Homo sapiens: one gene and its partners. The protein of the gene in region 2 purifies or fractionates together with the protein of the main gene of each other region. This does not show direct contact. Each region holds a gene or a part of one and is shown on either strand. Other genes may lie near its edges. The genes, in order: GRSF1, RHOBTB1, WDR43, AMY1C, CCDC138, MYO5A and MOB2.

The links.
Region 1: the proteins of RHOBTB1 (region 2) and GRSF1 purify together in Homo sapiens (affinity purification with mass spectrometry, with the first as the bait; one large-scale study listed by BioGRID). This does not show direct contact.
Region 3: the proteins of RHOBTB1 (region 2) and WDR43 purify together in Homo sapiens (affinity purification with mass spectrometry, with the first as the bait; one large-scale study listed by BioGRID). This does not show direct contact.
Region 4: the proteins of RHOBTB1 (region 2) and AMY1C purify together in Homo sapiens (affinity purification with mass spectrometry, with the first as the bait; 2 studies listed by BioGRID). This does not show direct contact.
Region 5: the proteins of RHOBTB1 (region 2) and CCDC138 purify together in Homo sapiens (affinity purification with mass spectrometry, with the first as the bait; one large-scale study listed by BioGRID). This does not show direct contact.
Region 6: the proteins of RHOBTB1 (region 2) and MYO5A purify together in Homo sapiens (affinity purification with mass spectrometry, with the first as the bait; one large-scale study listed by BioGRID). This does not show direct contact.
Region 7: the proteins of RHOBTB1 (region 2) and MOB2 purify together in Homo sapiens (affinity purification with mass spectrometry, with the first as the bait; one large-scale study listed by BioGRID). This does not show direct contact.

The regions. Positions count from the first base shown.
Region 1 is NC_000004.12:70,825,995-70,830,630, reverse strand, and holds part of GRSF1 (G-rich sequence factor 1), read left to right. Parts: intron 1-2,594; coding exon 2,595-2,779; intron 2,780-4,385; coding exon 4,386-4,507; intron 4,508-4,636. UniProt on the Homo sapiens protein: Regulator of post-transcriptional mitochondrial gene expression, required for assembly of the mitochondrial ribosome and for recruitment of mRNA and lncRNA. Binds RNAs containing the 14 base G-rich element.
Region 2 is NC_000010.11:60,885,186-60,888,685, forward strand, and holds part of RHOBTB1 (rho-related BTB domain-containing protein 1), read right to left. Parts: coding exon 3,027-3,500; intron 1,046-3,026; coding exon 927-1,045; intron 644-926; coding exon of another isoform or gene 626-643; exon of another isoform or gene 1-625.
Region 3 is NC_000002.12:28,942,773-28,947,408, reverse strand, and holds part of WDR43 (WD repeat-containing protein 43), read right to left. Parts: intron 960-4,636; coding exon 910-959; intron 810-909; coding exon 630-809; 3' UTR 1-629. UniProt on the Homo sapiens protein: Ribosome biogenesis factor that coordinates hyperactive transcription and ribogenesis. Part of the small subunit (SSU) processome, first precursor of the small eukaryotic ribosomal subunit.
Region 4 is NC_000001.11:103,752,157-103,756,439, reverse strand, and holds part of AMY1C (alpha-amylase 1C precursor), read right to left. Parts: intron 3,862-4,283; coding exon 3,631-3,861; intron 2,892-3,630; coding exon 2,758-2,891; intron 1,942-2,757; coding exon 1,819-1,941; intron 1,726-1,818; coding exon 1,626-1,725; intron 1-1,625. UniProt on the Homo sapiens protein: Calcium-binding enzyme that initiates starch digestion in the oral cavity.
Region 5 is NC_000002.12:108,845,057-108,849,692, forward strand, and holds part of CCDC138 (coiled-coil domain-containing protein 138), read left to right. Parts: intron 1-1,681; coding exon 1,682-1,874; intron 1,875-4,636.
Region 6 is NC_000015.10:52,315,433-52,320,068, forward strand, and holds part of MYO5A (unconventional myosin-Va), read right to left. Parts: intron 3,911-4,636; coding exon 3,628-3,910; intron 1,791-3,627; coding exon 1,616-1,790; intron 1-1,615. UniProt on the Homo sapiens protein: Processive actin-based motor that can move in large steps approximating the 36-nm pseudo-repeat of the actin filament. Can hydrolyze ATP in the presence of actin, which is essential for its function as a motor protein. Involved in melanosome transport.
Region 7 is NC_000011.10:1,472,742-1,477,377, forward strand, and holds part of MOB2 (MOB kinase activator 2), read right to left. Parts: intron 1-4,636. UniProt on the Homo sapiens protein: Stimulates the autophosphorylation and kinase activity of STK38 and STK38L.

The DNA of each region.
Region 1 (4,636 bases), on a different chromosome or scaffold from region 2:
GCCAGGCTGGTCTAGAACTCCCGGACTCAAGTCATTCACCCACCTCGGCCTCCAAAAGTGCTGGGATTACAGGTGTGAGCCAGCACACCGGACAAAAATACAGAATCCAGATAAGGTCTACACACTGCATTTGATTGTTATGTCCATAATTCTCTGTGTGTGTGTGTGTTTTTTTTTTTTTTTTAAGACACAGGGTCTTATTCTGTCACCCAGGCTGGAGTGCAGTGGCATGATGATAGCTCACTACAGCCTTGAATTCCTGGGCTCAAGCAATCGTCTCGCCTCATCCTCCCAACTAGCTAGAACAATAGGCATGTGCCGCCACACCTGGCTGTGTGTATGTGTGTGTGCGTGCGTGCGTGTGTGTTTGTAGGTGGGGTCTTGCTGTGTTGCCCTGGCTGGCCTCAAACTCATGGGCTCAAGTGATCGCCCGCTTTGGCTTCCCAAAACGCTAGGATTACAGGTGTGAGCCACTGCACCTGACCACTGATTCTCTTGAACTAGAGCAAATCCCCCTTACTTATTCTTCCCCCCTTTTTAAAAGCAATTGACTTTTGAAGAAATTAGATCAGTTGTCTTGTACAGTATCTCATGTTGACATCACCTCAGGATGCACATGATGATAAGTGGGTTCATTTGTGTTTTAACTTTAACTTTGGAGGTACAGTTTAAAATGTCAAATGTTAAATCACTGTTTCGTTAATTTTTTTTTTTACTGTTTTCTGGCCTTTTAAATCAGCTCCTTTGAAGTAAACAAAACAGCCATTCCAAAGCCAGTGTTTCAGGATCTACTGATAGAAGTGGTTCAAAGGTTTTTTGGTTTTTTGAGACAGGATCTTGCTCTGTCACCCAGGCTGAAGTGCAGTGCCACAAACACTGCTCATTTCAGCCTTGACCTTCTGGGCTCAAGCAGTCCTGCCATCTCAGCTTTCCTTGTAGCTGGTACCACAGGCATGCATCACCATGCCTGGCTAATTTTAGACAGAGTCTTATTCTGTTACCCTCGCTGGAGTGCAGTTGTGTGATACAGCTCACTGCAGTTGTGGCCTCCTGGGCTCAAGCAATCCTCCCACTTCAGCCTCCCAAGTAGCTGGGACTACAGATACATGCCACCACACCCAGCTAATTTTTGTATTTTTGTAGAGACGGGGTTTTGCATGTTGCCCAAGCTGGTCTCACACTCCTGAGCTCAAGTGATCCACCTGCCTCAGCCTCCCAAAGTACTGGGATTATAGGTGTGAGCCACTGTACCTGGTCTCCTGGCTAATTAAAAAAAAAAACAAAAAAAAACTTTTGTAGAGATGGTGTCTCACTTTGTTGTCCAGGCTCAAAGGTTTTTTTTTTAAAGAAGTAGTGCTCATCTAATCTTTATAGATTTGTAAACACAAGCTAGTTTTATAACTCTTAGTTTAGAAGGCCATGTTAAGAAAAAGGAAACTGTGCTGGGCGCGGTGGCCCATGCCTATAATCCCAGCACTTTGGGAGGCCGAAGTGGGAGGATCACTTGAGCCCAGGAGTTCAAGAGCAACTTGGGCAACATGGCAAGAACCCATGTCTACAAAAATAAAAAATAAAAAAATTAGCAGTGTGTGGGCTGGGCATGGTGGCTCATGCCTATAATCCCAGCACTTTGGGAGGCTGAGGCAGGTGAATCACCTGAGGTCTGGAGTTTGAGACCAGCCTGGCCAACATAGTGAAACCCTGTCTCTACTAAAAATACAAAAAATCAGCTGGGCGTGGTGGCGGGCGCCTGTAATTCCAGCTACTCAGGAGGCTGAGGCAGGAGAACTGCTTGAACCCAGGAGGCAGAGGTTGCAGTGAGCCAAGATCGTGCCATTGCACTCCAGCCTGGGCAACAAAAGCAAAACTCTGCTTCAAAAAAAAAAAAAAAAAATTAGCAGTGTGTGGTGGCAGGTGGCAGTAGTCCCCAGCTACTCAGGAGGCTGAGGCAGGAGGATCACTTGAGCCTAGGAGGTTGAGGCTGCAGTGAGCCATGTTCACACCACTGCACACCATCTTGGGTGACAGCAAGAAACCCAAGTTTCAAAAAAAAAAATTGTTCCAGAAGCTTGGGTTTAATAGATAGTCCCCTCCTGTGATAGCAAGTCATAATTGATACTTAGTTCTTGAATTCTCAGCCTTTTAGTGAAGTTCTGGGGAAGTTAGCTCTTCTTTTACTGTGACTTTTAATATCTTATACAGATATGATTAATTTGCACAGAATTGAATTTCAGAGCTTCAAGAGATTGTTAACCAGCAATTTAAAAAACCCTTATGAGATTAATTTTTTCTGTATACACAATTAACTTAAGCATAGTTGTTCTCATGAAGCAAAACAGAGTAGAAAATATTATTAAAATGTATGTGAAGAAAAAGTGTTACCTTGATGCAAAAACTTAAATCAGTGACCTACTCTGTTGTATATTTTCATGGGCTACTATCTGTATGCATTATTAGTTTTCCCTACCTGTTATCTTTTGACACCTGTGTTTCATAAGCTGTTGGAAATATAATGTATACATGTTTATTTTAAATGAGTTCAGTATAAAGTTACTTTGCACCATTTGTGCCTGTTTACTTTTGCTTTGACATAGATACATCGAGATATTTCCAAGCAGAAGGAATGAAGTTCGAACACATGTCGGTTCTTATAAGGGAAAGAAAATCGCATCTTTTCCTACTGCTAAGTATATAACTGAGCCAGAAATGGTCTTTGAAGAACATGAAGTAAATGAGGATATTCAACCCATGACAGCTTTTGAAAGTGAGAAGGAAATAGGTAAGGTCCTGCCTCTTCTTGAGACTCATTGGGTCTATCTTGAATGTTTTGGGTTTTGTGATTTTTTTTTTTTTGAGATGAAGTCTCGCTCTGTTGCCAGGCTGGAGTGCAGTGGTGCGATCTCGGCTGACTGCAGCCTCTACCTCCTGGGTTCAAGTGATTCTCCTGCCTCAGCCTCTTTGAGTAGCTGGGACTACAGGCGCATGCCGCCACGCGCAGCCAATTTTTATATTTTTAGTAGAGATAGGGTTTCGCCACGTTGGCCAGGCTGGTCTGGAACTCTTGACCTCAAGTGAGCCGCAGCCTCCTAAAGTGCTGGGATTACAGGTGTGAGCCAACACACCCGGCCTAAAGATTTAATAGGACTTTACATACTTTGAGTATATGCAGAAAGGCTTAATTATTTTGCTAGGTTTTTAATTTAATCATTTTTATTAACTATATCAAAAGCTGGGTAGTAAAAATGTGATAAAAGGAAGTAAGATGTCAACATTTAAATTAAGATGGGGGAAGATTTGGATAATGAGCAGGAATATTGACTGAAGTAAGGATTTTTTTTTTTTTGAGACAGAGTTTCACTCTGTTGCCCAGGCTGGAGTGCAGTGGCGCACTCTCGGCTCACTGCAGGTTCCGCCTCCCAGGTTCACGCCATCATCCTGCCTCAGCCTCCCGAGTAGCTGGGACTACAGGCGCCTGCCACCGTGCCCGGCTAATTTTTATATTTTTAGTAGAGACGGGGTTTCCCCGTGTTGGCCAGGCTGGCGTTGAACTACTGACCTCAGGTGATCTGCCGGCCTCTGCTTCCCAAAGTGCTGGGATTACAGGCATGAGCCACTGTGCCCGCCTGAAGTAAGGATTTTTGTTTGCTTCTGGATTTAATTATTTCTTTGATTCCTAACCCAGGGCAACATTTGGAATCTTTTAAGTTTCATAAATACTTTTTAAACTGGTACCCTGGGATTATCTTGTCACTATATATATGTGTATATATATTTTTGTTTTTTGAGACAAAGTCTTGTTCTGTGGCCCATTCTGGAGTGCAGTGGCACAATCATGGCTCACTGCAACCTTGAACTCCTGGGCTCAGGCAGTTCTTCCACCCCAGCCTCCTGAGTAGCTGGAACTATAGGCATGCATCACCATGCCCAGCTAACTTATTTTTATTTTTATTTTTTGTAGAGACAGTGTCTGGCTGTGTTGCCCAGGCTGGTCTCGAACTCCTGGGCTCAAGTGATTCTCCTGCTTCAGCCTTCCAAAGTGTTGGGATTACAAGTGTGAGCTACCACGCCCAGCCTTTGTTCTTTTTTTTTTTTTTCAGTGCCTATAATCTAGAAAGTCTCTTTTAGGGTTTAATTCATAATCATTTTACCTGCTCTCTGATGTTACAAAAAGGGCTAAGTTCTTAAACTGGTAATGGTCTGAGGCATTCAGTGCTTATGGGTGTTCAGGTGATATTTGTTGAGTGGCAGAAATTTCAGATCATTTTGGCTTTTAATGCTCTTAAGAGGAATTGAGGATTTGGACATAAAAGTCATACCTAATTAGAATCTGTTAATAACCCTTGAAGCTGTTATGTTTTAACAGTGCTTTCTGTTCCACCTCTCAGAATTGCCTAAGGAGGTGCCAGAAAAGCTTCCAGAGGCTGCTGATTTTGGAACTACGTCTTCTCTGCATTTTGTCCACATGAGAGGATTACCTTTCCAAGCCAATGCCCAAGACATTATAAACGTGTGTGGCAGTAAGATATCCAATCTCAATAGATTTGAACAAAAGTTCTAAAATTGAACTTGTATTAATTTGGGGAAGGTAGAGAAGAAAATATAGTGTTTCTGCGTTGGATAGTAAGATGGCATCTTC
Region 2 (3,500 bases):
TCACAAAGAAATGGTAAACATCTGAGGTGATGGATAGGCTAATTAACCCGATTTGATCATTCCACAGTATATGTATATTGAAACATCATGTACCCCATAACTATGTATAATAATTATTATTTGTCAGTTAAAAGTAAAACAACAAGAAAGACAAAGACACAGGGTATCCAAGATGCTGTTTGCTCTTCTCTAAGCATATGTCTCTTCTAGAGATAGAGCCAGGGGCTGACAAGTGATGTAGCTGCTTCCGCTAGACCTAAGTACCTTGAGAGGTGTGTTCAGGGGAGTAAACATTTGCTCCATTACTGTTGCCCTAAAGTTAACAAACCCTCATATCCCCTCAACACAGGCAGAGTCAGGGCAGAGCCTTAGACAGTATTGTAGCACATGGTAACCTGAAGGACAATCTAGTGCATCCCTCAGCTTGCAGATGAGGAGGTTGAGGCACAGGAATGCGGCTTCTCAAGGTCCCCTGTCTGGTTAGGGGCATAGCTAAGCCCAGGACTTAGGTGGCTGAAGAACTCTTTTCCCTTTCTGAACTACTGGGAGACATGCTCCTCTTGTACTTGGTTTTGATAGTACCATGCCTGGTGACATTTGCCAAGAGGTACAGCTGATCTTGTCTTCATGGATGAGGACGGCTCTGAGGATGAAAAGATATATGGCATGTAAAGCACCCAGGTGCCCCCACACCAGTGACCAATAAACAATAGCTCCTCAAAACTGCAGATCTAAGAAAAAGGTGACCAAACCCTCAAGCACTACTAAGGAGCAATAGCTCCTTATGATTATGACTAACAGTATGATGACCACTCATGGAGCCAGTTTAAGGATTAAAGTCATCTGGCTGTTTACCCACTTTATATAAATACACAGGCACACATACATTCATAAAGACACCACTATGCTTTTAGGAAGGCACGTACCTCACTGTTGGCACTTTCCACAAATGACCCCCCGAACATGGCTGCCATCCACTCACAGCTACAGATCAGCAGCGGCTTGTGGGCACTGATGGCTCCATCGTCCAATTTAAATGTCACGTCTGCCAAGGGATTGAGGAAACACAACCATGAGCCAACTTTGCTGAGAGCTTCAACCAAGGCTTCTGCTCCCATAGCCACCAAACTGCGACTCCCTTACTCTCTCTTGCATGTCTTTACTTACTGATTTTATGTCAATCCCCATCTTTGAGCTTTGACACACCCAGCTCCCACCTAAGGCAGCATGCTGTATTTGACATCATCACACATAAAGTCACGGCACAAACTCTCTGAACCAGAAAGTAATAGAAAGGAGGGAATATTTTTTCCTCCTTGCTATGCAAAACTTCAAGCATATAAAACAGTGGAACGAACAGTATGATGACCACTCATTTATCCTTGTTAACATTTTGGCATGTTTGTTTTACGTATATTTTTAATTTACACCATTTTACTTATTAATACTCAATTAAACCTTACATTTATAATATGCTCTACTCGTATGCTATACCAAAATGTAACCGAATTACTGTTTTTTTTAAGAGATGTGGGGGGGGGTGGGTCTGGCTATGTTGTCCAGGCTGGATTTAAACTGCCGGGTTCCAGCAATCCTACTGTCTCAGTCTCTGAAGTAGCTGGGACTGTGGGCAAATTAGCCACCATGCCTGGCTATATGTGTATTTTTGTATAATTTTGTGTATGTGTATAGACTTTTTTTTTTTTACAGATAGCATGGCACTTCACTCCTAACTACCTTATCACAAGTTTTCCCAAAATAACAACAGTCTCCTAAATAACCATACTATGATTACACCTAAGAAAATTAAAAATAATTCCCTATTATCATCCACTATATTGTTCATATTCAAATTTCTCCAATTATCCCTAAATCGTATTTCATAGCTTTAAAAAAAAAAAAACAGAATCCAATTGAGACTCCCACATTGTATTTGATTATTATGCCTCTCCAGTAAGGAGGAGGTGATTTAATCAACTCTACCTAAAGCTCACTGTTTAAGTTACTGTAGGTTTGTAACATATTCTTTTCATTAATTTTCAAGACTGTTTCTGTAACACAATGGCCAGTGTTTGAAGTAAATACTACTCATAAGCTTTAAAATGAATGAACTGAGTCTTTAGGAACCACTTACTAAATGTGTAATGCCCTGGCAGGGATTATAAAAGATAAAGACAAAGGTAGAGGTATCCATATAAATAGAAGTCAGGAAGTCAACATTTTACGATGAAATTACACACACCCACACACCAGCCCAGAGAACAATTTCAGAACAAAAATAGTCCAAGTGTAAGACAGTACAAGCATGGGTCAATAACCCATATTGGATGCGGGCCACCAGCATGCTTAACAATTATGAAAGGGTGCTGCGGGCAGCATATGGCATAGTTATCAAAGGCAAAGGAGGTGCAGGAAAACTACAGAAGTGCAGGGCCAAGGAGCATGAGGACGGAAAAGGAGAGGGGATGGAAACAGATGAGACACCCCTTGTAGGAAGATGGAGGGCCACCAAAATTGCCTCAAGGACTTTAGTGGCCTCAGGACTTGAGATCACTGATTTTTGTCATGGGTCAGTGCTGAAGGGTCAATGGAGAATAGAATTGGTCAGAGAATAGATTCTGAAGGGGAATTGTATGCAACAAGCCCACTGGAGATAGGCTTGGGGTCCCTGATCCACTCTTGAGGAGCAGTGTGGTACCATGGTGGTTTATGGAACAGGTTTTGATACCCACAAGAGCATGGGTTCAAATCCTGGCTCTACCATTTATTGCTGGTGTGACCATGGGCAGATTACCTAACCTCTCTGTCCCTTGGTTTCTCCACCTGCAAAATGGAGACAATCATATTTAACCTTTAAGTCTGATGAGGATTAAAGAAGTTAATGCCTGTAGCTTAGAAAGGTACATGGGAAAAAATAAGTACGTATAAATGTTAGCTATCGTTCTTCTTTCTCCTGCTCATGTCTGGCTAACGTTCAATGAAACACAATCAAAGGTATTAATGGCTCTGCCCCGCGGCCCACTCACCCGAGAACGTTCCCTTGCTGAGACACTCTTTTATCCGATTGGCTTTCCTTACGTGAAAGGCTTTCGTAATCTCCTGGTTCATGAAGGCTTCCTTGTTCATGATGTTTTCCACCATCATCCTCAAATCGAACATCTCGAGGACCTCTGCGATCTGAGCCAGGCCCACCAAATCCTTTTCCTTTTCATCCAGTTGTCCCGTATAAAGAAACTGGAGCAGGGTCCGAAAAGGGCCTGGCTGGACTGAAGCGTCCATCCTGACCACAGTCATGGGCCCCATCCGCTTTGAAATGGGGTTGACTTGCATTTCCCTGTGCATGCCAATGAACCCCTTACTCCATCCGGTCAAAGTCTGTGTCTCAGGAACTGCACCCTCGGCTTCCAGCCCCAGAGCCTCCACCAGGCTCTTGTTTGAAGACTTCCACTGGTCGGCCTGAGGAATCCTAGGCGGGCCCTCCTCCCTTTCTTCCTCTGGGT
Region 3 (4,636 bases), on a different chromosome or scaffold from region 2:
ATGATAGCTTCAAAAATAAGTGGTTATTCTGGGGAAGCACTCCAAATATTCAATCTGACTCAAGTCAGATTATCACAGTTAATAGACAAGCTAGGGATACTGAGGATTTTTTTTAATTACCATCATTTTTACTCCAGTTTGTAGTTATCCCTTCATATTTTATGAAAATGTACCAAATTAAATGTACTAAATTAAAAAAATTTTCACTAGTGCTGCTTTGCATCTGGATTTGATGAAAGATACCAACCTGAGATAAGAGCTGACTTCTTCACAACAGTCCAGTTCTTGAACTCCTATGGGAAAGGTCTTTATCTGCACTTGTCAATTCTTGATATAACCAATCATACTAGGATATTATATTATAAAAATATACCATATATTGGACACTGATGTCAGTACATTGCAGAAAATGTGTCTATATACTGTGTAAAGTTTATTAACATTTGAATGAAACACTCTTATTTACACAGTCAAGTCTGGGGTGCTCAGGACAGCAAAGTGGCATGGGATCCACTGCTGTGAATTTGGAAATGTGCAGCGGTCCTTGGCATCCTGGCACAGAGGCAGCCCTCACCACTGGGCAAGGTGAGCCAGAGTTTATATAGTTTGACCGGCTTGCTTTGCTGTCTTCATTCTTCTTCACTTTCATTTTCAGGATCTAAATCAGAATCTCCATTTAATTCTTTTTCACTTGCTGTATCTCTGTCCTCGCCATTTTCTTCATCTTTTCCTTCGGCATCCTCATCTTCCTCTTCAACGTCCTCATCTTTTTCACTTTCACTCTCCTCCTCATCTTCATCCCAATTATCCTAGTCGAAATACCAACAAGGAAAGCATTCATGAAGGTCTCATTCTTACAGAGTATGAGGATATAAAGGCCGATGTATATACAGGGAACAAATCACTCACTTCAGAATCCTTATCTGCTATTTCATCATCAGACTCCTCTTCAGAAGACTCTGTAAGGGGAGAAAGAACCCAGCCTTAATTTTAGAACAAAACAGAGGGTACAGCCTGGAAATTAAGCAGAACCAGATTCCTGAATTTACTTTTAGAAATATTATTTATATTTAGCAATCATCCAACTAAGAAATAACATTATTTTATTATTTTTTTTTTTTGCAGGCTGGAGTGCAGTGGAGCAATCTTGGCTCACTGCAACCTCTGCCTCCCAGGTTCAAGCCTCAGGCTCCTGCCTCAGCCTCCTGAGTAGCCGCCACACCCAGCTAATTTTTGGTATAGACAGGGTTTCACCATGTTGCCCAGGCCGATCTCAAACTCCTGGACTCAAAGGATCCGCTCACGTCTGCCTCCCAAAGTGCTGGGATTATAGGCATGAGCCACCACACCTGGCTAATTTATTCTTACATGTATAAAAGTATATTCATTATATTATTCCTTCAAGATCTCACCGGTCCAAACCAACTAGCCAAACCCTTACAAAAATCTCATCTTTAAATACTAAGCCCTATCAGGGCCACCAAATAGCCCCAGTGGATGAGGAAAAATTCAACACAGAAAAGCTGGCTTATAAACGAAATGGAAGAATTAGCATTATTTAACCCATAAAGTACTAATAATGAAATATTAGCAACTGATATATTAGATGTATGATTGTTGGGGGAAAACATGCAAACGTTAAAACAAAAATTAACACAGCTAGATTATTTTCTAAGCACTAAGGAAGATATATCTCACAATGGAGAGGAAAAAACTGATAACAGGCACAATGTGGTTCTTAGTGTGCTGCAATATGAACGATCAGCATTGATGCAACCCTCCAAAAATAAAATCCAATCAAACCTTTAGGCCTCACATCCAGTTTAAAGGAACTGTAGCTTAGAGGAGCAAATTAAAAGAAACCAAAAGGAAGCAAATCCACAAACATAAGGTGGGGCATTCTGTGAAATACACTTCCCAGTCTCTTCACCAAGTCCATGTCATGAAAAAGGGAGTTCTTAAAGACTAAAAAGAGTCTTCAGAAACACAGTAGCCAGATTCAACCCCATGATGCAAAACTCGAGTCTAGTTTGGGAAAAACAGCTTTAAAGGATATTTTACGGATAACTGGAGAAAGATGAAGATAAACTGGGCATTGGATAAAACTAAGGAATTGATTTCATTAGGTGTGCTAATGTTATCCAATAATACAGAATGGGATTCCTATTTTTTTAAGATATTCTAACATTCTTCTTCTATCTACTTTTTCTTAAGAAAATAAATCATTATCTCCAGATGAAGTTCCCTTACATGCCCATCTCCCTAAGCCCATTCCCCAAAAGAAACCACTATTGTGAGCTTCTCATTCTCCAGTATGCTGTTATAACACATACATCATACTACCCATGAATTACACATGTACATATTCATGAAAGACATATGCAGCAGTTCCCCCAATATGTGTTCCTTTTCCCCAGTTTCAGTTTCCCCTGGCAACTGCAATCCAAAAATATTAAATGGAAAATGTACCAAATCCAGGATCCCTAAGTTTTAAATTGCGCCCTGTTATGTGCAGCGTGATGAAGTGCCGTGCTATCTGGCTCCGCCTGGCCGGAGAGGTAAATCATCCCTTTGTCCAGCTTCGCTGTCTACACTAGCCACCCGTTAGTCGTTTAGTAGCCACCTCAGTTATCAAATCGAATGTTGCAGTATCGCGGAGCTTATGTTCAAGCCACCCTTATTTTGCTTACTAATACAATTACACGATGCTACACAGAAGGTATCATTTTTTGACTTGGTTTTGTAATCAAACTTATGCGTGTTAACTCGATCTCAACTCCAGGCACTCTCACCAATGTAGTGTTATGCTAAAGGAATAAACCATTTTAAACATGCTCCCACTAATGAAGAATTATGTTGTTCACAAGTCTTTTTCTTAATTATAAAGGCTGCAATGAACATACTTATATAATCTCTACATATATGTTTTAAAGCTATGTTGTCAAGCCTTTTAGCCTTAAAATGCTTTCACATTCTTAAAAAACTGAGGTCTCCAAAAAGTTTTTGTTTATGTGGGAAAAGTCTATCTATATTTATCACATTCAAATTCAATTTTTAAATTTAAGAATATTTAATCTGTTTACAAATGCCCATCCATTACATGTTAACACAAATCAATTTAATGAAAAACAGTATTTCTGTGCTCTCTTCGGCAGCACATACACTAAAATTGAAAAATGGAATTTCCAAAACAACAACAAATTCTACTAAGTAGAATGGCACTATTAAAAACTTCTCATATCTGCTTCTCCACTCTATTTTTTGGATATGTTGTTTTATTTGAACTATATGAAGAAAATCTAGCCTCCCACAGATGACCGATTGAAAAGCGGAGGACATCATGAGCCGCTCAAAGAGTTCTGGGCATCCCCACAGGTCCTCTGTTCATACTTGGAGAAGTATTGGTCACTGGGATACACACAAGCACTTTGGGATCACTTTGGGACTGCACTTGATGAATGGAAGGATATGCAAATTGTCAACTTTGAGATTACAAAGTTGCTCTCTAAAAAGAATGCACATGTACTCCCACCACAGCATGAGCTCCCATTTCCCAAATCATGGCCAACACCTGACCATTTTCACTCTTTCAAATTTATCCATTTCTCACAATATGGAATGTGATGTGTGATGTGATAATGGTAAAATTTTTTGTTCCATATAAATTATCAGTGTTTCTAACAACTTACTGAGCAGGCTATCTTCTCCACAATGATACAATACACACCATCAATAAACACACCAAGAGTCCACAGAACTACGGGTTTTTCAGGGGTAGCTATTGCCAATCTATTGGTCTAGCTGTCTATTATTGCACATTAACTCTGTAACCCTACACTTCTATAATCAATTTGCTACTCAGGGTATTTGAGGATGATCTAAAATGTTCCCTTTTTGACATTTCCAGGTTTTGTTATCAAGATTATACTTGGCTCATAAAATGACTAAATTGCCAGTACATGACAAAAAGGACAGCCCAGTGTTGTGGGTCATGCTTCTATTCCCAGCACTTTGGGAAGCTGACGCGAGAAGACCGTTTTTGAGGCCACGGTGTACAAGATCAGCTTGGGCAACAAAGAGACCTCATCTCTACCTTTAAAAAAAGAAAATTGGCCAGGCATGGTGGCTCAACAGTCCCAGCTACTCTAGAGGCTGAAGCAGGATGATCGCTTGAGTGTAAGAGTTTGAGGCTGCAGTGAGCTATGATTGACCTCGAGCCACTGCACTCCAGCCTGAGCAACAGAGAGAGTCTGTGCAAAAAAGAAAAGAAAAGATTTGTTCTTTGAAGGCCTGATCAAATAACCTTCAAAATATCTGGGCATATCTTGTGAGAAGTTTTATAAAGTCAATTTTAGAGCTACTGGCTTTTTCAAACTTTTTATTTCTTTTAAAGTCAATTTTGGTCATTAATGTTTCCTTAAAAATTAACTATACCACCTAGACTTTTAAATGTATTTACACTAAGTTTGTTCATATAATGTTCTTCTATTTAAATATTTTCCATACCTGGCCAGGCATGGTGGCTCACACCTGTAATCCAAGCACATTGGGATCACTTGAGCCCAGGAGTTTGAGACCATCCTGGGCAACATAGTGAAACTCTGTCTTTACAAAAAAATACCAAAGTTGGCCGGGC
Region 4 (4,283 bases), on a different chromosome or scaffold from region 2:
TCCCAAGTAGCTAAGACTGTTGGTGTGCACCACCGCACCCAGCTAATTTTTTTTTTTTTTTTAATTTTCAGTAGAGGCAAGGTCTTGCTAGCTTGCCCAGATAGGTCTTGAACTCCTCAGGTCAGCTGACCTTCTCAGCTGGCCGCACACAGTGCTGGGATTATAGGTGTGAGCCACTGCACCTGGCCTGCAAGGGCTTCTTAACATCACTGTAAGCCATGCAATGGCATTGAAATGGGAAGGGCATTAGTACTAGAAACACCAGGATTAAAACATAGGCTCTATTACTAGTAGCTGAGAAAATTTAATCAATATAAATAATTTCTCTGTGTCTCAGTTTCCTCATTTGTAAAATGAGAATAATGAGTTCTTTTGCTATAAAAATTAAGTAATATATGTGAAAATGCCTTGAACATGACATATGCTAAATAAATATTGGAGGCCGTCATGCTTCTTTTTAGATAAATGTACAAAATACTACATCTGAACATTTTTTTTTATAAATTGACCATATTTTTAGTATTATGCTTTTCTGATTGGCACTTTAAGAAATCTTCATTAAAAAACACAGAGTAACCCTAGGAAGTTTATCAGTGTTCACCTTAAAATCACGTCATATGGTGAAAAGTGAACAAAACTTAAGAGTTTATAGCATGCAGCAGTCCTGTCAAAGTGGGAATGTTATAGTAATAGAAAAAATAAAAGAACTCTCTGACTCCTAACAACAGAAATAAGACCAATTAGTAGAAATTATAAGAAGTTGTCTCAATATAAAAGTACACCTTCTAAATATTAAAGCTGTTTAACAATAGAATCAGTTGTTATACATAGTAGCGGACTTCTCAAACTGAAAGGAATCTAAAAAAAGCTAGCTAGATATCTGTGTGACTCATAGGAAGGAGGAATTTCTGCTTTAGTTCTGAAGTCTCTGATGCTGTTTCTCAACCCTTTAGTTTAAAAGAAAACCTTCTACTAGCTTTCCAAATATCTTTACACTCTTATTTCTCTGTTCCTTTTTGAAACTACTCAGCAGAGTGATGTCTTTACCATACTCCCAAATATTTTTCTCATTCTTACCTTTCTTGGAATACTCTCTATAAATTTCTATCCTTTAGTACATACAATTTCCTTCCTCTTATAGTATACTTTCCCTATTTAACTCAGCTGAACTGGATCATTTGTTTCTATACCATATAACTTTTTAACAGTATTTAAAAGACATTTATATTGTTCTCACTACGGGCAGATGATGTTTTAAGTTCTCTACAAGGGTTGGCATCTATATTCTTCCAATTAAACCTGAGGAAGGTACGAAGTATATATTTTAATCCCTGTGCCTAGCTCTTATTTTTAAGTGGTTTTTTTAATTTTTATTTTTATTTTCCCTGCGGGCTAGGGGGATGTTTGTCATATCTCTGAAAAAGCTTGCTATTCTTTTTCAATGGAGAATATAAAGTTTATTCCTTTAATATAACCTGCATTACTAAATCACAACCCTGTATCAGGTTTACAATAATTAAATATTTGTTGAATAAATAAACACTTAATAGTTGTCATATTAAATTAGGAGAAGATTGCCTCTTTTTTCTTGAGAAAAGGATATTTTGAACAACTCCAAAACTTACTTTTCCATTTTCAAAATATCTTGGCCAACGGTAGCTTGACATTACTCGTGTAAATCCATAAGGATGAGCAAGCATAAATCCAACTGCCATTTTGTACAGCCTGAAAGTTACATAATTATATTATCATAGAATATCACAATATTCATACCATCATTAAAAGAGGTGTTAAAAAATAGAGAACTTGGTTTTCTACCTAGCATCCCAGAAGGTAAGTATAGAGGCTCCTCCAGCGCCATGTCCTCGTTGATTGTCATGGTTATCCACAAAGACAAGCGCTCTGTCAGAAGGCATGAAACCCCAACCTTCTCCCCAGTTCCTATTTTTGAAACATAAGATATACGTTGATGTATCATTTCACAATAGTTTGAGAGTAACTCTACTGTGCATCTCTTTCTGTAAGGCATGGCATCTGAAGATTAAATTCTTTCTCTAATTAGATGGTTACTCTGTAAGATATATATATATACACACACACACACAAACACACACTCACATATATATACACACACACCTCATAAACAAACACACGTGTGTAATCTACATATATATAGTCCATATTTGTATATACATGTATGGAATACTTATATTCATATTACAAATATAAAATGTTTGTTATTAAAAAATTTCCTTTCAGAGGTTTCAGCACATTATCATTTAGAGGCACTCCAGAAGGATCAATATCCACATCACATTATACAGAATGTCAAACTAGATTAAAATAAGGCTTTAATATTGTATTGTTATAATATAAATCATTTTACATTTCCAATTCGTATAAGTAAATACAATAGCATGGACACTTTGTACATACTTTATAAATGATAGGATCATTTTAATAATAACCTGGCTTTAAAAGATTATATGCAAACATCAGTCAAATCCAGTATATTCATCTTGTACGCAGACAGAAACTCCTAGGGTAAGTTTAGCGTTCCTAGGCATACTGTCTTGTGACAGACACTCTAAATACAAAAGATGATTGATTAGAGTTTAGGGCACTAGAATACTTATCATTAACAACTGACTCCTTAATAGTTGTCTGAATAAGAATGTTCCAGAAGATAACTCGCACTGGGGTAGTATGACTAACAGATCTATGAAATAGTTCAGGGGAAAAGTTGTATTTATTTACTTTAAGTAAGACATCTTCTCTCCATTCCACTTGCGAATAACTGTGCCGAGTTTTGCACCATACTTGAATTCTGTCACCCGGCCATTACCAAAGTAGTCACTGCTTTTAATTGGCTCACCACCCAGATCAATTACCTAGAAGAAATTTAGGAAAAAAAAACATTTTGCATAAGGACTTTAAAGCATTTTAACCGATAAGTTTATATTATATAAAAATTAGCTTTCAGCTATTTCTGAGTTATTTTAGACTTGTTGTGCTTTGTTCTTTAGAGACAGGGTCTTGCTATATCGTCCAGGATGGTCCCAAACTCCAGGCCTCAAGGAATTCTCCTGCCTCAGCCTCCCAAAGTGCTGAGTTACATGCAAGAGCCACCACGCCTGGTCCTATTTGTTATATGAAACGCTCAAAATCGTTTTCTTATTCTTATTATCTTCATCGGTAATATTCTTATATTCTTTTTTTGATAAAGTATACACTACAATATTGAAAGAAACATAATGTCAAAGTTACCTGTTGTCCTGTGAGAATACTTACCTAATTTTTAGTCTTGTACATCAATGATAATAATAACAGCTCACAGGAATACGATATTTACTATCTGACTGACTTTTTTTGATAAATATTAACTCATTTCATTTTCCAAAGAAAATAAAGACATAACTATTATCAGTATCCTACATTCTGTGTACCTCCATAAAACCTGTTGTGATAAAGAATTAGATATGCTGTATGTGAAGAAGAGGAGGTTAAAGAACACTGTTTTAAGGAAATGACTCAGTCTTTATCCTACAGAAATTGCATTTTTAATTGAATCTGCCGTGAATTTTCTAATGAATAGGATGATATTTTATATGCCTATATGTATTGACGTACCTCCTGGTAAATGAAAGGTTTACTACCTTCCGGGAACCAGTTACTGTTTAGATTATGCAGTTTGTCCAAAATTGCCTTTATGTCTCCAGGCCACATGTGCTTGGAAGCATCAATTCTGAACCCTGCAACACCAATGTCAATGAGATGGTTCATATATTCGGCAATCTTAGAACGCACATAATCCTTCCCCAGTGCAAGATCGAGAAGACCAGACAGACGACAATCTCTGACCTGTTGAGGTAAGAATGTTATGATTGATTAATAAAACCTCACTTTTCGCCTGAGAATCCATTTGATTATTCATTTATTCCATGATTCCTCAAGAGATATTCTATGGTGACTTCCTTGCATTGGACACTGGGGATGCTCACATTCTACTATAGATGTATCTTGGAAATATTTTCTAATAGAAAATAGAGAACTTAGGAAATAAAGTCGATGAGTTTTTCAATTGGTTGGGAGCTTTTTAAAAGTGGACAAATGTGTATTGATTAAAAATCTTAAATCAATATTTAAAGGTTTTCAAATATGGATTTGAGTTTCTTAAAGTAGTCAAACTTGTTAACCTCTGTCCCTAAGAGATCTAAATTCATATTTACAACGAAGTTCAATTAGCTACATGTCTACAACAAAAGGCATATATCACTCCTTAT
Region 5 (4,636 bases), on a different chromosome or scaffold from region 2:
TTCAAGTTTATTTTTTCATTATAAAAGTGTAGTAGTAAAGCATTAGAGATAATTTTAAAAACAAAAAAAGTTTACCTTAATCCTGTCATTTAACACACTTATTGTAAGTAGAGTTTTGAACATTTTTTTCTATTTTTTACACAAAGGTTTAAAAACATGTATTTTTTTTCTAATAATATAAAAATTGTACTGACAATATATTTAAATTAGATTGCACTGCTTGTGTGTCTGACCACTCAACCATTTGGCCTTTGTCACCTGTAAAACCTCAATAGATTTGTTTTTAATTTTAGATGCAGAAATTTAAAAGCTAAAACTTATCCACATTGCAGGATCAATACTGAGTTAGGAACCAGTTGGTCACAAATTTTCATGCAGATAGGGGAAACTGCTATAAAAACTCAGTCACATGAGATTGGAGAATTGGGTCATAATAAAGGAAATTTTAAGTTTTTACCAAATCTGGTTTAAGCATTCTGATCTGCAACAGTTTGAAATGCTTTCCTTTCATTTGATTTTTTTTTTTTTTTTTTGAGATGGAGTCTCGCTCTGTCACCCAGGCTGGAGTGCAGTGGTGCGACCTCGGCTCACTGCAAGCTCCGCCTCCCGTGTTCACACCATTCTCCTGTCTCAGCCTCCCAAGTAGCTGGGACTATGGGCACCCGCCACCACGCCTGGCTATTTTTTTGTATTTTTAGTAGAGATGGGGTTTCACCATGTTAGCCAGGATGGTCTCGATCTCCTGACCTCATGATCTGCCTGCCTCGGCGTCCCAAAGTGTTGGGATTACAGGCGTGAGCCACCGCGCCCAGCCTCATTTTATTCTTAATAGATATATCAAATACCATTAGATCATATATTATTTTAGAGGTAGTTTCATGCTACTATTTCTATTTTGCCCATTTTTTTTTGTTTTATTCTCCATGAGAATTATCTATGATTCTAACCCAGTATTTTACTGTTTTGAAATTGCTAAAAGTTTTTGGAGTCACTATGACTTTTTAAATCAGAGTTAGCTGAAGGGACTGAGGCTCTAGATAATCATTTCTTAAGTGAACACAGAAGGATGTGCCTGATAAGCTGGTTTTCATTGATGGTGGAGCAATCAGCAACTGAGAGAGTAGGTAGTCCACCTCTGTTCCCTTGCTATTTCTCTGTGTCAGAAATATAGCATGATCTTATGTTCTTACATGTTTTAGAAAAATGTACAGTCACAAATAATTTTTTAAGTTGATAAAATTGTCACTTTCCAATTTTACATATTTTCAACTTTAAATTAGCCACAGATTTCACTTACTTTTAATACATATATTTGATTTAATATTTAAAATAGTTATTGGCCAGGCACAGTGGCTCATGATCCTGTAATCCCAGCATTTTGGGAGGTCAAGGTAGGAGGATCACTTGAGCCCAAGAGTTCGAGACCAGCCTCAGCAACTTAGTGAGACCCATCTCTACCGAAAAAAAAAAAAAACCTGAGTGTGGTAGTGAGTGCCTGTAGTCCCAGCTTCTTGGGAGGCTGAGGTAGGAGGATTGCTTGAGCCCAGGAGTTTGAGGCTGCAGTGAGCCATGATTGCGCTACTGCATTCCAACCTGGGCAACAGAGCAAGACTGTGTCTCAAAAAAAAAGATATATTCTGAACATGAATAAATATACTAAGATTGTACATATTTTTAACAGCACTCGACTATGACATCAACATTGAGGAGATTGGGTGAAGACATTTTTAAAGGAGTGGTAACTAAAGGAATTCAGGATAATTCTCCACAGCATTCTGTGGAGAATAAACCAAAGACAGCTGCTTTCTTTAAGAGCTCCAATTTGCCATTGAGATTTTTATCAACCTTAATTGTTCTCAAAACAGTCACTCAAGGTAAGCTTTCAATTGTACTTATGGTTAATTTTGAGAAACAATAGAGAATATCATATATTAAAGCAATTCTTTTATCAAATATGTTGTACATTTTCAGAATGAGGTTTTGAATTGTTTTATAATGGTTACACATTATAAAAAGCTACTTTTATTTGCTGAATTTGAGAAATTGAAGTCTTTAGTTGGATTCTTGCCTCCTCCCAAGAGGCCTTTGATTGTCTTAGGTCATATTCCCATAACAACCTTTGCCTACATCTATTTGTATTTGTCACATCAAATTGAAATTGCTAGTTAATTATTTTCCACTAGCGAATGTGTTGGTAAACTAGTCCATGGGCAAAATCTGGCCTACCACCTGTTTTGTAAATGAAGTTTTCTCCCACAACCATGCTCATTTGTTGTATATTGTCTATGACTCTTTGCCCTACAGTGACAGAGTTGAGTAGTTGGCAGCAGAGACTGTATGGCCCCCCAAAGCCTATAATACTGTCATCTGGCCCTTTACAGAAAATGTTTTTCAGTGCTTGCACTAGCTTGTAAGTTTCCCAAAGAAAAAACTTGTTTATAATGACCCTGCACCTAGTGTAGTGCTTCATATATAATAGTGAATAAGGAAATGGATGAATTAGAAATCCTTCAAAGTTGGCCCTAATTAATATGTGTTTAATATTTAGCTATAACAGGTTATATTATTAAATGTGATAATTTTTGTTAAAGTGAGTTATGCCAGTGTAGTCAGGCAATAAATATACCATCTTTCTGTCTTCCCTGTTTGTTAAATTTTTTGTTAAGCTCAGATTGTTGTTTTTATTAATGGGCAATGACAGTCATTTAATTTGACTTCTTTCTTTGAAGTATGTTTCATTTAGTTACTCCCGATGGTATGGAATTGATGAAAAAGTAAAAAACCATATAACTGCCTTCTTAATTATTTTGCCTCCTTATGGTTATGGTTCTCAAGATTACAATAGACTAGGTGGTTAGTGTGTGAAAGGTCACTTACGAGAAGCAGGGATTAGCTCAAAATAAAGTTCGCCACAGACCTATCTCCAAATCTTAAAAAAAAATACACACACGCTTACATACCCACAGGTAAATGGATTCTAAATAAGAATTTTAGCTGACACATCATAGCCACACATTAAAGCATAGATTCACTAAAGATCAAATAATATTAGTATCAAGAATTTGAAGCCAATTTAATATAAGAAAAATTATTAATCATTTATCATTTAACTAAGATGTTTGAAATAATATGTCAACATACATTATATCATTTAATAACATGTAATGTTCATTTCTGATAATATGCTAAGAAAAGCAAAAATGCAATAAGGGATATTTATGTGAAATAGAAGGGAATTAGGTGCTCTCTGTCACCACTTGTGTGCAGCAGTTTTGGACATCTGTAATGAGCCATGAAAAAATGAAGTATGAATATTGGGAAGGAGTAGAGAAGACCGTTAATTTGTGGAGACTCTGTATTAATCGAGGGCTTTCAAAGAAATATAACAGGGCATAAGAATATGGATAAATAATGGATGGATGAATAGGTTGATGAAGATTATTGCTGAAGTTAAATGTCAGAAATAAAGAACTTTTATTCTTCCTGCCTATGAAGACGAAGTGTTTTAAAAATAAGATGTCCCATATGGCTTAATGTATAATACCAGTTAAAATTCTAATATAGTTTGCGTAAGTTGAGGAAGTGTTAGGGAAATTTATGTGGAAAAATTTGCAACAAATGCGATGATTTATAACAAGTAAAACAGCAACACTGGGGCAGAGGCTTAGCCAACTTTAAAACAATCCTAATATGTAATGATACAAAATGAGTAATAATTTATTTAATAAATCAAAATAGGACAAAGGGAATAGGAAGTCCAGAAATGAATCAAAATTGGCACTTCATATTATGTATTGAATTAATGACTTTGCTTCCCTGTGCAAGTCATTTTTTTAAGAACATAGAATCTTAAATCATATGATACAGATGATAGAATTAGTAGACAAGTCTTTACTGCAGTTATTATAACTATATCCCTGTGTTCAAGAAGGTAAAGGAAAACATGAGCCTGGTAAGGGGATACATGGAAGATACGGGATAAAAAGACTTCAATCAGATTTCTGCAAATGAAAAACCCAGTGCCTGAAATTTAAAAATACACTGGAGAGAATTAGACACTGCAGACAAACGACTAGTGAACTGGGATACATAGCAATAGAAACTGTCCAAAATGAATTACACAGAGAAAAAAAATCTACAAAAAAGAAAACAGAACATCAGTGAGTTTTGAGACAAAATCATATATTCTAATATTATGTACTTAGAGTCTATGAAGAGGGGAGACAAAAACTATTTCAAGACATAATGGCTCCAAATTTTTGAAATATGGTGAAAACTATAAACACACAAATCCAAGGAGCATGTCCAGCTGAGCTCATGGTCACTCCTATTCCCTTTTCCTTAGCCTCCTCTAGATACATGTGTGCCATCCCTTTCCTCCACACCCTGGCCACTGGATTTCAGGAATACTGCCTCCCATGGTGACTCTCCATGACCTTTTCAGTGGCTTCATCACCTCTCCCTAGACCACAGACAGGCCCTGACACGTCTCCCTGCCTTCACTCTCTAGTCTCCCTTCACACTTGTTGTGAACGATTCTTTCTCACAAGGTTCCTGCCTAACAGATACCCTTTAAAGCTGCAGGCTCCTCAGCCTGGTGGCCTCAAAAAAGAAAAAGAAAAAAAAATCTGACACT
Region 6 (4,636 bases), on a different chromosome or scaffold from region 2:
GGCACAATCTTGGCTCACTGCCACTTCTGCCTCCCAGGTTCAAGTCATTCTCCTGCCTCAGCCTCCCAAGTAGCTGGGATTACAGGCACCCGCCACAATGCCTGGCTAATTTTTGTATTTTTGTAGAGATGGGGTTTCACCATGTTGGCCTGGCTGGTCTTGAACTCCTGACCTCAGGTGATCTGTCTGCCTCAGCCTCCCAAAGTGCTGGGATTACAGGTGTGAGCCAGCACGCCTGGCCTACTGATTTTTTCTGTTGCCCAGGCTGGAGTGCAGTGGTGCAATCTTGGCTCACTGCAACCTCCGTCTCCCAGGTTCCAGCAATTCTCCTGCCTCAGCCTCCAGAGTAGCTGGGATTACAGGTGCCTGCCACCATGCCCGGCTAATTTTTGTATTTTTAGTAGAGATGGGGTTTCACCATGTTGGTCAGGCTGGTCTCAAACTGATTGAGTTTTAATTGTATTGGGCAAAACTGAAAATTTCATATGTTGTAGGATATATGATGAACATTAAGAAAGTTGGCTGGGCACTGTGGCTCACGCCTGTAATCCCAACACTTTGGGAGGCTGAGGCGGGTGGATCATGAGGTCAGGAGATCGAGACCATCCTGGTTAACATGGTGAAACCCCATCTTTACTAAAAATACAAAAAATTAGCCAGGCGTGGTGGCAGGTGCCTGTAGTCCCAGCTACTCCAGAGGCTGAGGCAGGAGAATGGCGTGAACCTGGGAGGGGGAGCTTGCAGTGAGTGGAGATCATACCACTGCACTCCAACCTGGGCGACACAGCGAGACTCCGTCACAAAAAAAAAAAAAAAAAAAAAAAAAGAAAGAAAGTCTAAGAGTCAGCACAGAAAATAACCGGGCAAAAGAAAATTGGGCATGTTCATGCCTGTGCCTTGCTTCATGCTGTCACTATAATCCTCAAATGCCCTTCTCATTCTTCCACTTCCTTAAATTCAATGCCCAGATTAATGGGACCTTCCCTGAATACTGCTATCTTCCCTCAGTACTTCCTTTAGGCATCTTACTACAGAATTTGCTAGAACCTCTACGGTAGAGTCAGTTGGATACGACTCTGTCTTCCCTACTGAACTGTAAGCTCCTTGAAGGCAGGAATTTTTCCTTATTTATTGAAGCATCTTCCCCAGCAATAAATATGGTGCCTTGAGATGGAGGCTTAATTAATCATCTGTTGAAGTAACAAGAATTATCTGTCTCTAAAAACAAAGTCACTATTTGATAATCCACTCAATTATCAAATAAGATAGAAAGCTATTTTATGGAATATAAGCTGCATAGACTGTATACTCCATGAGAGCAGAGACTTTGTTTTGCCTATGGGTGTATCCCAGTGCCTTCAATGTTATATAGAACACTGTAAGTACTCAATAAATATTTGCTGAATATTAAATATATTTATACTGTAATTAGCACTGAAATGTATTAATTTCTGGCAAAATCTCCTTGCTTTAAGATTGGTAGAGGCATATATCTTCTTGAACACAGATGAAGTCAGCTCAGAGATACAAGCAATAAGTAGAGGACTTCTTTACTTCCCTAAAGATCATCTTTGATGAATGTTAAATTATTTTGTAACAGGGAAAGTTGCTCTACCTGGGCAGTAGTTAAAGCATTGCACATAGAACAAATGGCTTCTGCATCATCATCTGTTTTCTTTTTCACTTGCAAAAGTTGAGCAGCCTGAATGAGAGGTTCCAGGGTTTCTTTAGCCCCACTATTCATCAGATTCTTGTCACGCAGCCATTCTTCCAGTTGACTGACATTGTACCTATGAAAAAAAAGAGATACAGAGAATGCAAATTTGCTGAATTTTGTCAAAAATGTCTTAATTTTTTTGTGTGCGGCCTTGTCAGGATTTATGTTAAAATGACAGGCAGTATTTTTGTTCAATTTTCTTAAATCTCATCAGCTGTGCTTAAAAATTTATTATAGTCATGAGGATTATAATCACCATTATATAAGACTAAATGACAAGATAATGTAATTCTCTTTAATGGAAGATGGAAATGAAGTCATTATGGCAAAAGTTATTAGACTTGCTAATAAACAAAATAGAATAACATAATGTAGCTCTGTCTTTATTGGGGAGCTGGCCAGAAAACACTTTGTAGCTTCTCTTACAATTTCAGAGCTGGGTTGCTGTTGCAGGGTGAGACTTGATAATCCTTGAAGCACTCTCTCTTAAGGCAAACTCCAAATCAGGTAACTGAATAACCAAAAGCCCCACATATACCTGTGCTGAAGCCTTAAGGGAAGAGCCTAGGAGATGAAGATGGTGGCCTGAGAAAGCTCCGGGATGAAAGGAGAGAGAGGCAAGGGAGGGCCACTGGAAGAGACAAAGACTCCAAATGGTGACAGAGACAAACTACAAAGACATTGTAGGTTTCACAAAATAGCCAACCAAGTGGCAGCAGTCCTAAGACTGAGGTCAATAGACACACAATCAGCACTTAGCAACCAGGCAAATAGGGGCCAGCATAATATTGCGACAGGTGGCTCCACATTTCCATGCAGAGCTTATAGAGAAATATGCTCCACTATCTGAGAGGAAGGCATTATTGTCTTAAAATTCACTACACTTCAATGTAAGTCAGGATGGAAAATTTGAAAAGAACACTAACAGTTCCTGAGATTGAGTAACTACTAAGACTTTGATAGGAGAAATCATTTTTCCCTCCTCTTGGTGAATATTCTAGCTGTTTTAAAATAAAAAATTTGTGGCCCAGCACGGTGGCTCACACCTGTAATCCCAGCATTTTGGGAGGCCGAGACAGGTGGATCACCTGAGGTCAGGAGTTTGAGACCATCCTGGCCAACATGGTGAAACCCTGTCTCTACAAAAAATACAAAAATTAGCTGGGTGTGGTGGTGCATGCCTGTAATCCCAGCTACTTGGGAGGCTGAGGCAGGAGAATTGCTTCAACCCAGGAGGCAGAGGTTGCAGTGAGCCGAGATGGCGCCATTGCACTCCAGCCTGGGCAACAAGAGCAAAACTCCATCTCAAAAAAAAAAAAAAAAAAAAAAATTTGCAAAAAAATTATGTTACAATAATGAGGTTATGCTGAGGAGTATTGGGCATAAAATTAAGTGCAGCTTTTCTTAAAATATAGAGGGGGGATATTTTAAGAATTAGTAAAAGATCTATCAGACCTGTTCTTGTTGCCATAGGTACAAAAAGGTATTTTTCCAAAAATATATTTCTAAGAGCAATCAAACATTAGAAATCTTCATTATTATAATTTAATAATTTCTTATTGTATAATTAAAACACACACATAAGGAGAGGAAGCAGCTATCTCATCTTTGTGTATTTTTGCATCATCTCTTCACTCCCCCAAATAAGCAAGCTTCACAGTGGAAAAGGGTTTCCTATCAAGAATGTGAAGAACCTGTTGGCAGGGTACAGACAGGGAGCAATAATGAGATGTGGTGAAATCCAGCCAGGCAAGGGAAAGTGGCTCCGTGCCAGTTTCTCCCTTGCTGCTTGGCCACATGGCACCAGACATGAGATGCAAGAACTGAAAACAAGTCATCAGCTCTCCACAACCCTGGCAGGCCAGCTGGGCAGCAAAAAGACACTGTCGCAGGTGTTGGCATTTGCTCACCTGATCTGCATGCCTTTACTCCAGGAGCACATGTCCTTCCGCAGGAGAAGGTTGTTCAGGGTGATGGCCCCTATGATGTAGAACATCTGCTTGACCACCTGCTTGATCAGTTCAGGGTCCATGCCATGCTGACACATGACCGAGTGGAAGGAGTTGAGCTGCCGGAGGATGGAGTCCAGTGTGTAGGTGCCCTCATCGGCGATACTGGAGGTTCGCTTTCTCAACCCTGTGGGCTTCACCCCAGACACGCCCTGAATCGTTTCATGTTCCAGCATGCCTGAGACTGCAGGAGTATTTCAATTGTTAGAGGAGATGATGTGGAAGGGAACCTTTCATGTGCACATATCCATGTGCACAAACACATGCACATTCAACTTAGGAAAATTAGCTGGGCACGGTGGCTCACATCTGTAATCCCAGCACTTTGGGAGGCCGCCGAGGTGGGTGGATCACTGGAGGCCAGGAGTTCAAGACCAGCCTGGCCAACATAAGGAAACCCCGTCTCTATTGAAAATACAAAAATTAGCCAGGCGTGGTAGCGTGTGCCTGTAATCCCAGCTACTCAGAAGGCTGAGGCAGGACAATCACTTGAACTTGGGAGGCAAAGGCTGCAGTGAGCTGAGACCACATATCTGGGCTCCAGGCTGGGTGACAGAGAGAGACTCCATTTCAAAAAAGAAAAAAATGATCTGGGTGCCAAAATAGAGGGAAAAGGAACTTCACTACAAAAGGGCTTCCGGATTTTAAACTTTACTGAAGGAATAATTCTTAATTGCAAAAATTTACTATGAATCTAAGTAAACTTAATGGTGTCTTTTCTAAAATAAGAAGCGTTAAGAAGCAGTAGCCTTGTGATAGAACAAGTGTGTGTGTCTTGGGTGGGCTTTTGAGAGTGGTAGGTAGCAGTTCGGGTTAAGATAAGCATTCTCCATGTTATCTGAGCCCCAGAGGCAAAAACAGTAAGAAAAGCAGGGCACTGACAACCATCTTGGAGAAAACGTGGGAGAGG
Region 7 (4,636 bases), on a different chromosome or scaffold from region 2:
GAGACAGGGCCACGGGGGGCTCGCCCACTTCCTGCGCAGCCAGAGAAGCCATCCTCCCAGCTGGGCACAGGGCCTCCAGTGTCTCCGGGCACAGGGCCTCCAGCGTCTCCGGGCACAGGGCCTCCAGCATCTCTGGGCACAGGGCCTCCAGCGTCTCTGGGCACCCCTCTGCTGTGTCCAAGAAGCCCCTCAGCCTGTGCACTGCAGATCCCGGGGGGAGTCACCAGAGTTACCAAGAAGCTAGAGGATGACACTGCAAGCCCTGCATGCTGGCACCCTGCCCTCTGCAACAGAAACAGCCATCAGGCCACCTCCCAGCACCACCAGGGCCCTAGGACAACCCCCTCCCAGCACCCACCTCCAGAATGCAAACCAGGAGCTCTCATGTGTGCCCTGTGCGGGGCTGACTCAGCCCACCCGAAGGGGAAGTGCAGCCCCAAAATGGACAGGCCATGAGGACGGGGATGCAGTGCCCACACCTGCCTCTCAGGTGCTGTCCTCCCCCTGGGACAGCTCTGCATGACCTTCACGCCCACCTTCCCAGGCTGCAGGCCTCACCGTGGGCATCGCCACCAGGCTGTCAGACCCTCTGAGAATGCAGAGACAACAGTCCTTTCAGCATCTGCTCCTCGAGAATGATGTAGAGGACGCACGTATCCCCACTGTCCTGGGGTTCCCAGATGGTGTAGGGGAGGCCCAGCCCCTAAGGGCCAGGCTGAGGCCCATGTTTCCAGGGCGAGGACCCAGCCAGGATGGCTCAGCACTCTGCAGGAGTCAGACACTGGCTCCAGGTACCCTGACACTGCAAGCTGACATCTGATGCACCTGGCCACAGGTGTGCGACAGGTCTCAAAACAGTGGAGGTTAGAGACGGAAACCCTTTTCCACAATGCAAACCCAGAGAAAGCAGTAACTCAGGGACACTGTGGATTGTCCCATCTGTTCTGAAAGATGGAACACCACTGTTTCCTGTACTTCTTCAATTATCAGTAAACCGTTTCTGGTATATAGTTCTAAGATTTTTATCCACATGTGGACTCACGCATTCATAACCACAATCAGGACACGCGGCGGCTTACGTGGCCCCTCACACCCGTGCTGCTGTGCCCCCAGCACCCCGGGGATGGCTCCTCAGGGATGGGCCGCGGGAAGGAATCGCACCGCGCGGATCCTCCCGATCTGGGCCCCTCTTGCACGGAGGCCCCTGGGATGCAGTCACGTGGCAGACGTGTCGGAAGTCCACGGCTCCTCACTGCCCAGACACTGCCCCTGCAGAGATGGACATGGCGTGCTCATCTATTCACCTGTGTCCCTGCCAGCAGAACAGAGTCCCAGGTGGCCACATCCTGGCCAGCACCAGTGTCCCGACCGGCATGTGGGCAGGTGGACATGGGTCTGCCCATGGTTTCGGCTTGCCTTTCTCTAATTGCTAACAACACAGGATAGCCCCAGCTGCCATCCTTACACCCTCTTTGGCAAACTGTCTGCTCATTTCTTTTGCTGACAGTTAACTGGACTGTTTTGTTTTCTTACTGCTGAGTTGTGTATGTTCTTTATGTATTCTGGATATCAGTCCTTTGTGGGATGTGTGATTTGCAAATGTTTTCTCTCCCAGCCTGGAGTTTGTCTTCTTTCTCTTAAAAGTGTCTTGAAGCAAAAGTTCTGAATTTTGCTGCCTAGTGTCAGGTCATAAGGATTTCCTATGGTTTCTTCCAAAAGCTTTGGAGTTTTAGATGTTTGCACGAGGCATGAGGGATAGGTCAGCGTTTGGTTTTTGACACAAATGACTGCTTTTCCCAGCAGCATTTTTGAACAGACTACCCTTTCTCCCTTGAATTTATTTTGCTCTTTGTCAAAACTCTGATGGCCCCGTTTGTGTGGGTCTATCTCCGGACTCTCCATCCACACGTTTGTGTGGGGCTGTCTCCGGACTCTCCATCCACACGTTTGTGTGGGTCTATCTCCGGACTCTCCATCCACACGTTTGTGTGGGGCTGTCTCCGGACTCTCCGTCCACACGTTTGTGTGGGGCTATCTCTGGACTCTACTGTGTTCCATGGAGCTCTGTATCCATTCCTTCAACACTGCACACTGTCTTAATTACTAGAGTTTCACAGTAAGTCTCAAAAGTGTGAGATTCCTCTTATTTTTTCAAAATCATTGTAGCTATTTCAGTTAATTTGTCCCTCCATATAAATTTTAGAACTAACTGGTCTATACTTGAACTCTGCTGGGATTTGGATTGAGACTGCACTAAATCAACAGATCAGTTTGGGGGAGAATTTGTGTTTGGAGTCATCTTCCAGGTGATAAACGCAGTGCGTCTCTCCATTTATGTAGACCTTCGATTTTCTGTAACAGCATTTCGTAGTTTCCAGGGTGCAGATCCTGGGAATGTCTTGTTAAGTTTATAACTAAGGATCGCATTATTTTTGGAGCTATTATAAATGGCATGTTAAATATTAATTTCAGTTTTAAATTTCACATTGCTAATATACAGACCTATGACTGATTTGTGCGTGTTGACCTCACTAAATTTATATTATTATTTGCTACAATCCTTGAGGTTTTCCCAATCACACGTGTGCACAGGGATACAGCAATCCCCCCCATCCACAGGGGATGCACTGCAAGACCCCCAGGGGATGCCTGAAGCCACAGAGAGCACCAAACCCTATATATGCTGCGCTTTCTCCTATACATACATTACTAAAATAAAGACAGGCAGACTTGATTGATTGACTGAGATAGGGTCTCGCTGTGTTGCTAAGTTAGTCTCGAACTCCTGAAGTGATCCACCGCCTCAGCCTCCTGAGTAGCCAGGATTACAGGTGTGAGCCACCACACCCAGTGTAATTCATAAACTGAGGACAATCAGTTGCAGTGAGTGGCTGGGGTCGCATATCAGGGGGTCCCTTGCTGGCCTCCTGCAGGCTCAATGGCAACACGCTGCTGCTCCCATCCTCTCACCTCCTCCACCCACAGATCCAAGTACTCAACACGCACTGTGGCTGTCACTTTTGCAATTTCAGATGTAACAGCGAAATTAAAGGGACTTTTTTTCCCTTTTTCACAATTTCATAAAGAAGAGATTTGTTCTTACCTTAGATCTTAGCAACCTCACACACAATCTGTTTCTTTCTAGTCAGGAACTTTCACCTTTTCATCTTTAGGTCAAGGAAGTGCTTTCTGTCTTCTCTTTGGCATATCTGAATTGCCAGCATCACGCTCTTGCGCTTTGGGCCGCCTCATGTCACATAAGAGCAACCTGAGCACGAGCACCCTGGCACTGCGGCAGTGGATCCACACGGGGGCCGAGGCACAGCTGGGCCGAGGGAGGAGGAGGCACACCTGGAGCAGGACGGTGGAGACCGCATCACACTGCTCAGAACAGCATGCAGTTGAAAACTTATTAACTGTTTATTTCGGGAATTTTCCATTAACTATTTTCAGACCATAGTTGACTGTGGGTAACGGAAACTGTAGATAAGGGGGGCTTATTGTTTTATTTCTTTTCCAATTTGGATGCCTTTTATTCTTTCTTCTTACCTTATGGCACTGCCTATCTTAGGCGAGTTCTGATATACTGCGCTTTCCAAAGAGTTGGTCCATTTAACCCAAGCCATAGAATTCATGTGCACAGAGGGTTTTTTTCCAATACTTCCTTATTATCCTTTTAACATCCACTGGGTCTACAGTGATACTCCTCTTTACATCCACAGGGTTTAGTGACACTCACTCCTTTTTATTGATCATTGCATCTTCTCTCTTATCTTTGTACCTACTAAAGGCTTACCAATTTATTACCTTTCAAAGTCATCACATTTTGATTTCACTCATTTCCCCTATTGTTTTAAAAATCAATCTCAGTGCTTTCTGTTCTTATTTACTTTCTTGTCCTTGATTTTGACTTATTTTGCTCTTTTTCTAGTTTAAGTTGGAAACGTAGATTACTGAAAGTCATCTTCTTTTTCTAAGAAAGCATTAATCCTATAAATCCCCTCTAGGCACTGCTTGAGTTATGTCTCACAAATTCTGACATGCTGTATTTTCCTGTGTACAGTTTGTTAAAGTTTTTTTGTTGAGGCATCCTCTCGGACCCATGGACTACTCAGAATTGTATTAGTCTGCAAGTGTTTGGAGACTTTCCTGTTCTCTGTTACTGATTTCTAATTTAACCCCACCATGGTCAGAAAACTTACTTCGTATGGTTTTGATTTTTTAAAATTTGTTAAGGGCTCTTTTGTGACAGGTATGCTCCATCTTGGTGGCTAATCTTTGTGAAGTTGAAAAGATGGGTGTTCTGCTGTTGAGGCTGCAGTGCATGTGTCATTTCAATCCAACCCACGGGTGGGGTCATCGGGCTCCGTGCTCTCGCTGACTGTCTATGAGGCTCCATCACTGAGGAGAGGGCTGCAATCCCCGGCGATCATGTGATTTCTACACAGGCCGTCCGTTTGCTTTGTGTGGAAAGCCCTGTTGTCTGGCGCACACACATTTATGGCAGGATTTCTTCAAGAGCTGCTCCTTTTCTAATTAGATAACCTTCTTATTCCTGGTCACTTCCTTCCTCGGAGTCTCCTTTGGCACTGACATAGCCACTTCCGCTTCCTTCTGATGGGTGTTTTCTCAGCAC